Linked DNA regions of Homo sapiens: regions 1 and 3 are each reported to be linked to region 2. The links are microRNA targets in miRTarBase. Many come from high-throughput screens and were not tested one by one. Region 2 holds a microRNA gene; each other region holds the end of a gene's coding sequence.

Region 1 (4,207 bases), not on the chromosome of region 2:
CCAGGCTCAATTGATCCTCCTGCCTCAGCCTCACGAGTAGCTGGGACCACAGACATGTGCCACCATGCCTGGCTAGTTTATTTTTTGTGGAGAGGGAGCCTTGCTATGTTGCCCAGGCTGGTCTCTAAGTCCTGGGCTCAAGCGATCTGCCTGTTTCAGCCTCCCAAGGCAGGTGTGAGCCATTGCACCTGCCTTTAATTTTTTTTTTAAGAACCAGAATTACATTCTGGGTTTTTGTGGGGCAGGGTCTTAGAATGAGGAACTCTGACCAAGCAGGGCTTCAAGGGAACTGTAGGGTAGTGAACTGGGAGATATTCTTAGCAAATGTTGGAAGCCCCTGATCTAGGGCTTGAAATTGTTTTTTGGTTTTTGTTTTTGCTGCTTGGAAATTAATTAATCAAATAGTTAAAAATGTAATAATATTCTTTAGTATTACTACTACTGCTATCCTCTAATGAATATTAATGAAAATTATTTTTCAGAAAATAACCAATTCACCCCAGAAGTTAATCAGCTGCAGAAGGGAGGAGGTGGATGCCTGTGCCACGGCTGTGATGTCTCCTGAGGAACTCCTCAGGGCCTGGATCTCATAGGTTTGCGGAAGGGCCCAGGTGAAGCCGAGAACCTGGTCTGCATGACATGGAAACCATGAGGGGACAAGTTGTGTTTCTGTTTTCCGCCACGGACAAGGGATGAGAGAAGTAGGAAGAGCCTGTTGTCTACAAGTCTAGAAGCAACCATCAGAGGCAGGGTGGTTTGTCTAACAGAACACTGACTGAGGCTTAGGGGATGTGACCTCTAGACTGGGGGCTGCCACTTGCTGGCTGAGCAACCCTGGGAAAAGTGACTTCATCCCTTCGGTCCTAAGTTTTCTCATCTGTAATGGGGGAATTACCTACACACCTGCTAAACACACACACACAGAGTCTCTCTCTATATATACACACGTACACATAAATACACCCAGCACTTGCAAGGCTAGAGGGAAACTGGTGACACTCTACAGTCTGACTGATTCAGTGTTTCTGGAGAGCAGGACATAAATGTATGATGAGAATGATCAAGGACTCTACACACTGGGTGGCTTGGAGAGCCCACTTTCCCAGAATAATCCTTGAGAGAAAAGGAATCATGGGAGCAATGGTGTTGAGTTCACTTCAAGCCCAATGCCGGTGCAGAGGGGAATGGCTTAGCGAGCTCTACAGTAGGTGACCTGGAGGAAGGTCACAGCCACACTGAAAATGGGATGTGCATGAACACGGAGGATCCATGAACTACTGTAAAGTGTTGACAGTGTGTGCACACTGCAGACAGCAGGTGAAATGTATGTGTGCAATGCGACGAGAATGCAGAAGTCAGTAACATGTGCATGTTTGTTGTGCTCCTTTTTTCTGTTGGTAAAGTACAGAATTCAGCAAATAAAAAGGGCCACCCTGGCCAAAAGCGGTCTTTAAAGTTCTAGTTACATTTTCAACCTCAAGTCCAGAGAGGCTCCAAAGGATACCTTTGGTCAAGAGGACTCGGGGTGGGGGTGGGGGTGGGGATGGGAGCAGCGGAGGAGCAGCCCCAGAAGTCCAGAGCCCAGGGCTGCCTGGTTGGGGGCAGCCTCTGGCTGCATGAGAACCCCAACTGAGGCAGCTGGCATAAGCTTCGCCTGGTTAGGTGCTCCTAAGCCTTTCCTGTTGGCCCCACCCCACAGGAAATCCCTGGGGAACCCTCTTTTCCTTGACAGCTTACTCAGGGTATCCCCAGCCCCTCTTAGTCTGCTCATTTAGGACCTACCTCTGGAAGCTTCTACCCACCCCTTTGCCCCACCAGGTGAAGAAAAGAGCCAACCACAGAGAAGGAATGATGGGAGGAAACTTCTTGAGGGGTGAAGGGATTGATGGGCAGGGCCTGCGCCTTGCTTTCTAACCCCCTCGAAGCTCTGGAGCCTCCAAGTTGGTTTATCTTCACCCTCACTTCCTGGGCCCTTTCCAGCCAGCCCAGTGGTGGGACAGTCTAACTGCATCAACTGGGTGTTTCCCCAGAGGCCCACAGCCCTTCACCACCTGGAGGGGTCTCTCCAGGAGCATGAGATCGCTCAAGACCCGTTCCTTCTTTTCCTTTGTGTTATTTTGTATGCTTCTCTGTGTTGTTCGTTAGAGGGTGTGTGCTAATTTTATATTTGACCTAAACTAGAAACACACTTTCAGTTTGCAAAAACAAAGACCATATTACTATTCCAGTCATCACCCTCCCTCCTCTCTCTTCCTGCCCCCTTATGGTGGGGTGGTGGGGGGCACTATCCTTCTGTCACAGCCCAGGCGCAGAACTGAGAAAGGACCCTGACCTCCATCTGCTTGAGTCTCTCACAACTATTCCCAGTGCCCATCCATTTTTTGGCATCTATAGGTACACAGAGATTTCTCTTGATTCTTCTGTTGTCTCCCCTTGCCCTGAATGTGCATTTATGGAGCCCCAGCCATGCACCCGACCTGCCAGCCCCCATTGGTGGAGGGGCTGCCTCCTCTACAGCTGGCTGTTCCCTCTCCCCTGGAGCACTTCTATCCCAAGTCCCCAGGCCTCCTCCCTGCCCCTCCAATGCATTTATCCCTACATCTGGACACTTACATGAGTGAAAAGGAATGTGATTAGTAATTACGGCAGGACCACAGCTGTAAATCGGGACTCCTCTGGGCAAACCAGGAGCCAGGTCACTCTCATCATAAGGCACAGCTTCCTGCCACATTCTTTTTCTAGAAGCTCCAACCCTCCAGATGCCCAGTCACTGAGTCCAGGGGCTCAGGCTCAGCACTACTGGCTTGCTTTGTTTTCACAGTTTCTCATTGAGTCCTGTGGGAATTGGGGGAAGTACTTGTGTGTGTGTGTTGTGGGGGGATAAGTATTTGGGAGCAGCCTAGAGTGGCTTCTGCTGTTTCACTGAAGACTGTCTCTTGCAGGCCAACCCAGTAGAGTCCCCTGAGCCCCCAGAATCAAGCCCAGCTTTCTTAGTCCTGCCTTTAGGGTGCAACTGCCAGGGTCCAGTGAATAAAATCCCTGCTCCATGAGGCTTACATTCCAATGGGGTAAGGGAGAAATAATAACACAATAACAGTATTATTATTCAGTGAATTATTTAGTATATTGGGAGTTTGTAAGTCACGGTAAAATGAAAAAGTAGAGCAGAAAACGGGGGCTGGGGGCAGGTTGCAGCCTCTTCAAAATGAAAGTGGATGGAAACAATGGACCCAGAACTACCTGTCAGATAAGTCCCTGCATAGCCACATGGTGTGAGATATTATGAGAGATTCTAGAACAAAGTAATTTGGCAACAAATCCGTAGGTGTATGTAGTCTAAAACAAAAACTTTATTGAGTATTTATCCCTTTGTATTGATAGTGTATTTTTGCAACTATTATCTTATCAGATAAAGCAAGTAAATAATATATATTTTGTATATTTTGATAAGAATCTAGATTTTAGGATTAGTGACAAGGAAGGCTAATTTTAGGATCCCAAATTTGACTAAGAACAGGGCACTGTTGGAACTGAATCAAACATATTAATATGAAGTCATGTCTTTATGAAACATGACATTAAAAATATTTTGACTTTTTTCCACTGAAATGGCCCAGGAGAAATGTCACCTCCACAATGCATCTTAATGCTAAGATTTTGGTTTCTAGTGTTAGTTTTCTCCCAAAGGAGCCAAAGTTTCTTGGAGCAGTAATGGATGCCATGTCAGTTTGGAGTTGAAAGGTACAAGGTAATCTTAAAACACCTATACCTTTTTGAGACAGAAAGCAAAGCATTAAATAAGGGTCATTCAAAATTACACAAGGAACAATCTATACAGGGCTCCTCCTGGCCAAAGTTGGGACAATATAAGCACCAGAAGGAGAATATTGGCTGGCACAATTGATACCATATATTTGAAAAGTCATCAGTCCATGACACCCAAGAAGAGCGAAGCTACCATAATGCATTCTCAGAGAAGATGAATCTAATAGAATGCATTTCTACTTGTTATTCAATCGTGTTGGGCTTATCGACTCGTTTATCGTGTCAATGAGGAATACCAGTAAATGTAAATCCATCAGTCAGAAGGCATTTTTTCTCCTCTAAAGGCTCCTCTCCGCCCCTTAACGTCCAGTCTTTCCCCACTTGGCTCTCCCTGTCCTGTCAAGGGGTTCGGTGGAAAAGTCTTTTAAGTTCCCTTCACAGA
Region 2 (4,249 bases):
ATTGTCAATTTTGGCTTTTGTTGCCATTGCTTTTGGTGTTTCAGTCATGAAGTCTTTGCCCATGCCAGTGTCCAGAATGATATTGCCTAGGTTTTCTTCTAGGGTTTTTATGGTTTTAGGTCTTACTTTTAAGTCTTCAATCCATCTTGAGTTAACTTTTGTATAAGGTGTAAGGAAGGTGTCCAGTTTCAGTTTTCTGCATATGGCTAGCCAGTTTTCCCAACACCATTTATTAAATAGGGCATCCTTTCCCCATTGCTTGTTTTTGTCAGGTTTGTCAAAGATCAGATGGTTGTAAATGTGTGGCATTATTTCTGAGGCCTCTGTTCTGTTTCGTTGGTCTATATATCTGTTTTGGTACCAGTACCATACTGTTTTGGTTACTCTAGCCTTGTCATAAGTAAAAAGAACAAAGCTAGTGGCATCACACTACCTGAATGCCATTTATTTCTTTCTCTTGCCTGAGTGCTAAGGCCAGGACATCCAATACTATGTTGAATAGGGGTGGTGAGAGAGGGCATCCTCGTCTTATGCCAGTTTTCAGGGGGAATGCTTCCTGGTTTTGTCCATTCTGTATGATGTTGGCTGTGGTTTAGTCATAGATGGCTCTTATTATTTTGAGGTATGTTCCTTCAATACAAAGTTTATTGAGAGTTTTTAACATAAATGAATGTTGAATTTTATCAAAAGTTTTTCTGCATCTATTGAACTAATAATGTGATTTTTGTCTTTAGTTCTGTTTATGTGATGAATCACATTTGTTGATTTGCATATATTGAACCAACCTTGCATCCCAGGGATAAAGCCTTCTTGATCATGGTGGATTAACTTCTTGATGTGCTGCTGGATTCAGTTTCCAAGTATTTTGTTGAGGATTTTTGCCTCAGTGTTCATCAAGGATATGGGGCTGAAGTTTTCTTTGTTGTGTCTCTGCCAGGTTTTGGTTTCAGGATGATGCTGGCCTCACAGAATTAGTTGGGGAGGAGTCCCTTCTCATTTTGTTGGAATAGTTTCAGTAGGAATGGTACCAGCTCTTCTTTCTTTATTTTAATGGCAGAATGCAGCTGTGAATCCATCTGGTCCTGGACTTTTTGGTTGATAGACTATTTATTACTGATTCAATTTCAAAGCTCATTATTGGTCTGGTCAGGGAAGCAATTTCTTCCTGGTTCAGTCTTGAGAAGGTATATGTGTCCAGGAATTTATTTATCTCTTCTAGGTTTTCTAATTTGTGTGCATGTGTGCATAGAGGTGTTCATAATAGTCTGTAATAGTTATTTGTATTTCTGTGGGGTCAATGGTAACATCCCATTTGTCATTTCTGATTGTGTTTATTTGGATCTGTCTTTTCTTCTTTATTAGTCTAGGTAGTGGACTACCTTATTAATGTTTTTCAAAACACCAACTCTTGGATTTGCTTATTTTTTCATGGCTTTTAATGTCTTGATCTCCTTCAATTCAGCCCTGATTTTGGTTATTTCTTGTCTTCTGCTAGCTCTGGAGTTGGTTTGCTCTTGCTTCTCTAGTTCTTTTAGTTGCAGGGTTAGGTTATACATTTGAGATGATTCTAACTTTTGATATTAAGTTGGAATTTAGTGCTATAAATTTCCCTCTTAACACTGCCTTAGCTGTGTCCCAGAGATTCTGGTATGTTGTATCTTTGTTCTCATTAGTTTCAAAGAATTTCTTGATTTCTTCCTTAATTTCATTATTTACCCAAAAGCCATTCAGGAGCAGGTTGTTTAATTTCCATGTAACTGCATGTTTTGAGTTTTTTGTAGTCTTGATTTTCACTGCTATCCAAGAGTGAATTTGGTATGATTTCAGTTCTTTTACATTTGCTGAAAATTGTTATATAACCAACTGTGTGGTTGACTTTACAATATGTGCCATGTGGTGATGAGAAGAATGTATAGTCTGTTGTTTTGGGGTGGAGAGTTCTGTGGAGATCTATCAGATCCATTTGGTCCAGTGTTGAATTTGGGTCTGAAATATCCTTGTTAATTTTCTGCCTTGATCATCTGTCTAGTTCTGTCAGTAAGTGTTGAAGTCTCCCACTATTATTGTGTTGGAGTCTAAGTCTCTTTGCAGGTCTCTTGAGAACTTGCTTTGTGAATCTGGGTGTCCCTGTGTTGGGTGCATACGTATTAGGAGAGTTAGGTTTTCTTGTTGAATTGAACCCTTTACCATTATGTAACGCTCTTGTCTTTTTTGATTTTTGTTTGTTTAAAGTCTGTTTGTCTGAGATTGGGATTGCAACCCCTGCTTTTTTCTGTTTTCCATTTGCTTGGTAGATTTTCCTCCATCCCTTTATTTTGAGCATATGGATGTCACTGCATGTGAGATGGGTCTCTTGAAGACAGCATACCATTGGGCCTTGCTTCTTTATCCAGCTTGTTACTATATGCTTTTTAAATGGGGCACAGAGTGACAAGCTGGTTAAAGAAGCAAGACCCCTTCAAGATTATTATTGATATGTGTGGATTTGATTCTGTCATTGTATTGTTATCTGTTTTTTATGCCAGCTTGTTTGTGTGGTTGCTTTATAGTGTCACTGGCCTCTGTACTTGTGTTTTTTTTTAATTGGCTGGTAATGGTCTTTCCATATTTAGTGCTTCGTTCAAGATCTCTTGTAAAGCAGATCTGGTGGTAATGATCTCCCTCAGCATTTGCTTATCTGAAAAGGATCTTATTTCTTCTTCACTGAGGAAGGTTAGTTTGGCTGGATATGAAATTCTTGGTTGAAGATTTTCTTCATTGAGAATGTTGAATATAGGCCCCCAATCTCTTCAGGCTTGTAGGGTTTCTGCTGAGAGGTCTGCTGCTAGCCTGATGGGGTTCCCTTTCTCTCTAGCTGCTTTTAACATTCCTTCTTTCATTTTGACCCTGGAAAGTCTGATTGTGTATCTTGGTGATGATATTCTTATGGAGAATCTTGCAGAGGTTCTCTGTATTTCCTGAATTTGACTGTTGGCCTCTGTAGTGAGGTTGGGAAAGTTTTCACAGAAGATATCCTGAAATATGTTTTCCAAGTTGTTTGCTTTCCCCCAATCCCTTTCAGGGATGCCAGTGATTTATAGTTTGGGCCTCTTTATATAATCCCATATTTCTCAGAGGTTTTATTTGTTCCTTTTCATTATTTTTTCTTTATCTGTATATGACTGTCGTGTTTAAAAGAGCCAGTCTTCCAAGTTCTGAGATTTCTTCCTCAGTTTGGTCTATTTTGCTGTTAATTCTTGTGACTGCATTGTGAAAATCTTGCAGTTTGTTTTTCAGCTCTATCAGATGAGTTCTTTTATACTGGCTATTTTATCTGTCAGCTTCGGTATCATTTTATTTTGATTGTTAGTTTTCTCGGATTGGATTTTGCCATTCTCTGGAACCTCAATGATCTTTGTTCCTATCAGTATTCTGAATTTTCTTTCTGTTATTCCAGCCAACCCTGGTTAAGAATCCTTGTTGAAGAACTAGTGTAGTCATTTGGAGGATATAAGACACTCTGGTCATCTGACTTGTCAGAGTTCTTGTGTTGGTTCTTTCTCATCTCTGCATTTAGGTGTTCTCTTAACTGCTGGGCTGCCTCTGATTGAAGCGGTCAGGCAGGGGCAGAGTGGTTGCACTGGAGTCCTGGGCCTGGTAACTCTGCCCAGTGAAGAGAAGTGAGGACCAGGACCTGCGTGGAGAACAGTATGGACACTTTTCCATTAGGTGGATGCTCTGTGCTGGGGGTTCAGACCAGTGCCGGGTCCCCATGGACTCTCTAGAGCCTGGAGACAAGAAGGGTGAGGGCTGTGAGACAGCAAAGATGGCAACCCACCCCTCCCACTGGGAGCTCTGTCCCAGAGAGCTGAAGAACTGCTACTGGCTCAATAGCTCCAGTGGGGAAAGGCTGGAGACCCAGGCTGGGAGAACCTGCCCAGTGAGGAGATACGGGAACAGGGACTCATGTAACAAACATATAGAAAACATGTAACATGTAGAAAACATGTAACATATAGAAAACATGTAATATATAGAAAACATGTAACAAACATATATAAAAGTCTGGCCACTTTTCCATTGGGCTGCTGGAATATGCAGGAGGTCTGCTCCAGTTTCTAATCACCTCAGATTTTCCAGCACCTGAAGGTATCAACAATCAAGGCTGCAAAACAGCAAAGATGGCAGTGTGTCACTCCCTCTGGGAGCTCCATCCCAGGGAGGTATGGATCTGTTGCCAGCTTGAACATACTGGCGAGGGTAGTTGTAA
Region 3 (4,200 bases), not on the chromosome of region 2:
TATGAAAAGAAATAGCCTAGTATTTAAAAACTATATATCAGGATAAAATGTATTTCTTTGTCACTAGAAAAATATGTTTTAAATAGATTATGTCTACTTGGAAAATAATTATAAAAGGCAGCCACAGAAATATATTTTGTCATGTACAGTAGATATTTAAATAAATATAAAAATAAAATTTTAATGGATTAGAATAGCTTCTACACACTAATGAGGTGTTGTTATTTTACTTAAGAAGAAAAATGAAATAGATATTTTGTTTAGGATATTTTAAAGTTACTTTCTGTGTCTACCATTTAAAACCCAACTCTAAAATATGTTTTTTCTCATAAGCACACAATGAAATAAAAAATTCTATAATATAACCATTAAATCAGCTTAAAGAGACATTTGGGGTTTATTAAGTCAGTAATACTATTATTAAAAATAAACATTGATGCCACATTTAAAAAAATCGTAGTAGCATGAAGATTTAATTTTTCTTTCCCAAAATGTATAAGGTCAATTACTGTTAATGTTTTAAGTCTGCTAAAATACGTATTCATTCATGTACAAAATGTACAAGCATCATTTACCATCTATAAAACACACACACACACACACAAAAGCTACAAACCTCTAAAATTTAGCCACTCAATTCAAAAAGGGAGCAGGGGGCAAAGAAGTTAATAGGAAAGAGTAAGGCTAACAAGACAGATGATAAAGTAATTTAATAAGAATTCATTGGTCGGGCACGGTGGCTCACGCCTGTAATCCCAGCACTTTGGGAGGCCAAGACGGGTGGATCACAAGGTCAGGACATCGAGACCATCCTGGCTAACACGGTGAAACCCCGTCTCTACTAAAAAAATACAAAAAAATTAGCCTGGCGTGGTGGCGGGCGCCTGTAGTCCCAGCTACTCAGGAGGCTGAGGCAGGAAAATGGCGTGAAGCCGGGAGGCGGAGCTTGCAGTGAGCCAAGATCGCGCCACTGCACTCCAGCCTGGGCGACAGAGTGAGACTCCGTCTCAAGGAAAAAAAAAATAGAATTCATTGAAGGAGGGGAATTAGGTAAGTGCATAAATATATATAGCGTAAGCCAGAATAAAAATGCTTCTTATGAGAAGTACCTCTAAAATATTTCTGGGTTCAGAGATGAGATTCCAACTAATTGAATGGAACAAACGTATATCATAGAAGAGCTAGCACATTAAAAAGACTGTGGAAAGGGTAAGATTTCAGAGCATTGCAGAAGGATAAAAAGGAGAATTCCAAGTGGAAGGATGACCAAGGATGAATCTAGGTCCTGTTACAGAAATTAAGAATAGTCAGCTTTGGTTTGTTTCTTCTAGCTGCATATAGCAATTTCATAGTTAACCTGTCAGATTACTCAAGAATTTATACTTTAACATTTCTATAGATAATAACATTACACTTTCTATCAAGTTCTATACTTATAATTCCAATTCTCACTTAATTTAATAACAAATAGTTCAGTATCCAGACATGAGGGCATTGTATTTCAGTACTTCTATTTGTGTTAATATATTAACATGTAACTGTAAATTAAGAGGTTCACCATGGTAGCTGATGAAGGATTAAAACTTAATGATTGTAGTGATCAAACGCACAAATACATTTGTATAACTAATGAGCAAATGGAAATTCTGAAATGAATTTAAAAAGCAATGGTACTGCTTTCTGAGACTTACAAACATTATTTACTGTAAAATGTAGAAGAATTGAGCCTTAAATGCATTACTGTGCTTAACTGTATAAAAGCAGAAGTTAATTCAAAGTTTCTAAGATGAAATTATCTCTCCAGGCCTACTTCTTATCAGAACCTCTTGAATTCAGATAATTAGTCAAATAGATAAGCATGTTCTTTCAGTATTTTCTCACTAAAGATAAGAATAATTCAAAGAGATGACTTCCACTGTAGGAAAATGATACAATGGGTTTATCATTTACGATGATCTTCTGAATTTGATCCCCATTAGTGAACAATGAATATGTCAGTGGCTTATATTGTTGAATAATTTTATGGACTCTTAGTCAGGTGAACTTTCCTTTCACAGATGACTATTCAATTTTATCTTTTTTAAAAAAATGTAACCGATGCCAGAATTATTACTCTTTATCACTGTATTTTTCCATAGAATGGAAATTTCTATTTTTCTTACCAGCCAACTTGAAATAAGACCTGAAAATATCTATTTTGGTACAAGAAATGATAGTATAAATGCTCACGAAACTGAAACAATCAGAAAATTCTAAATGTCTTCCCAAAGATGAGTTAAAAGACAGGAGAAGGCAGGAACAAATATGTTAAGAAGATTTAAGGAGCAATATATTTTTTTAAATGAGTTAACAATAAAGTTGCTTTAAAAAATTAAATACTTTTCAAATTTTGAAAGTAAAACAATAAGAAAACTGAGTTAAAACCTGCACTAAAAGTATGCAAAAGAATAAAAGAGAAGAAATGAGAAGGATTGGGACCCTTAACCAATGTCCACATATTAAAACTAAGTAAAATAATATTTCTACTTACATGTGCAGTGACACACAGGAAAGATATCAGCTAAATAAAAATAAACTGCAGCAGTACTCAGTTAACAGTACAATAAAAAATAATTATTTCATTATGATTGCATCATGTGTTCATTGGCAGGAAGGAAGCAAAGGAAAAAAAGAAGACGGGAGAAGGAGAGATGAAGGCAGGAAAAGAGAGGAAGTAAGGCAGACAGGAAGGCAAATAAGAAGAAAGTAAGCAAAGAAGGGAGAGAGAAGAAAGCACATTTCTAATTAAAACACAAGCATAGTAGGCCATAATAATGATTGTCAGTCAAGATAAGACCTAAATAATCCCTTCAATTTCTTGAATTCTTACTAGTGTGTTGGGGATTTTGCTGGTACTTTTTTAGGAACTAAGTCTCTTTTAAGCACTTTAGATGAAGAAATAAGACAATCTGAGTTATAGCATAGCAGAATAAGTCTTTTGTCCATGTGGTCTCCTCTCTGTAGGTTCAGAGACAAAATGCTAATAATTATAGCAGATTCTATTTTATCCACAGAAGGGTTCCAAATTCCATCATTGCAACTTTTGTAGATAGGACATAAACAAATAACACTATGACTGATTTTCTCTGTAACCCACACTATACCTCACTCAGTGAATGAACATGGGTTTGGTCAGGAGATCTGAATTGCCAGATAGCAAACATCCACACATAGCTCTTAATAAATTGAGGCTTCTTTATAAAAATTGCTGTTTGTATGCAGCACTTGGCCCTGCCTCATCTGTACCCTATACGTGTCTGATTCCCTGCCAGTATTTATACATGTCCCAACAGCAGCCTGTTTCATAGGCCTCAACAGGTAGAAGGGTTCAGGAAGTGATATACATGATACGTTGTATTATCAAGGATCAATTAAAAGAACCAAACTTTGAATTAATGCAGTTACAACACAGTAGCTCCCATATACTTTACAGATTTAAAAATTCCAATTATACAGTGTTGGAAAAATATATATTACAGCACATTTTAATTCTACTTCTTCATGTTTGAATATTTGGACTGTCTAATATTGAGGATTGCTTTTAAAGTTTATGTAAATCGTTTTCCACAGACGCTAAGGAAGATTATCATATGATTCCCATCAAATTATTTCTGTGTTCTACAACGACAAGCTATTTGTGCTGCATTCGTGATAAATAGTTCATTGCTTGAACTTGCAATAATTAAAGTTCCTTTGGAAATTTCACATCAGAAACAACACATTTCTCGAGTTTTTATTAACTATTGAATACTACAATATGATTTACATTTTTTTGAGTGTTATATTTAAAATGAGGTTTCCTATTAAATTAAACAAACATTAAAACATGAAAGCAGGTCAGAAAGGAGCCATTGGAACTATGTTGACAACAGCACCACATCTCCTACTGTTGTTTCGGAGTCCTGACTGTGGTTAGAACTGATACCAGTGTCCGAGTCTGTGTCATTTGTGTAATTGCTAAATACTCTTTGAGTAAAGGGAGGAATCTCCCCATTGCTACTGGGAACCTCAGATTCCTTCGCTCTGTTTTCCTTTAACTGGCACCCATCTTTGTTGCTAATGTGAAGTGAATTGAATTCCTTGGCCAGGAGTTCATATTCTTTTGCTTTCATCTGAAGCAATGAGTCACTGTATTTAATCTCTTTCTGGATGCCACTCAAA

The links. Region 2 holds the annotated microRNA hsa-miR-5586-3p (CAGAGUGACAAGCUGGUUAAAG, at 2,424-2,445, shown strand). A microRNA usually pairs through its seed, bases 2 to 8, with sites in the 3' UTR of a target mRNA and lowers its output. Matches are read on the target gene's strand: a 7mer-m8 pairs with bases 2 to 8, a 7mer-A1 pairs with bases 2 to 7 and ends in A, and an 8mer does both.
Region 1: the mRNA of IL20RB is a reported target of hsa-miR-5586-3p. Seed matches in the 3' UTR shown: 7mer-A1 at 997-1,003.
Region 3: the mRNA of RASSF9 is a reported target of hsa-miR-5586-3p. Seed matches in the 3' UTR shown: 7mer-m8 at 992-998.

What each region holds. Positions count from the first base shown.
Region 1 is chr3:137,009,631-137,013,837 of GRCh38, forward strand. It overlaps IL20RB (interleukin 20 receptor subunit beta), which reads left to right. Exons shown (of 7, transcript NM_144717.4): 7 at 483-1,455. The coding sequence ends at 593. Among named protein-coding and RNA genes, the nearest start is that of IL20RB-AS1, 30 kb to the left of the region's middle. RefSeq lists a cis regulatory region at 4,148-4,207.
Region 2 is chr14:59,645,158-59,649,406 of GRCh38, reverse strand. MIR5586 (microRNA 5586) reads left to right here and starts at 2,387; the gene lies at 2,387-2,445. All of the region lies in intron 3 of RTN1 (reticulon 1), which reads left to right.
Region 3 is chr12:85,800,806-85,805,005 of GRCh38, forward strand. RASSF9 (Ras association domain family member 9) reads right to left here. Exons shown (of 2, transcript NM_005447.4): 2 at 1-4,200. The coding sequence ends at 3,897. Among named protein-coding and RNA genes, the nearest start is that of RASSF9, 34 kb to the right of the region's middle.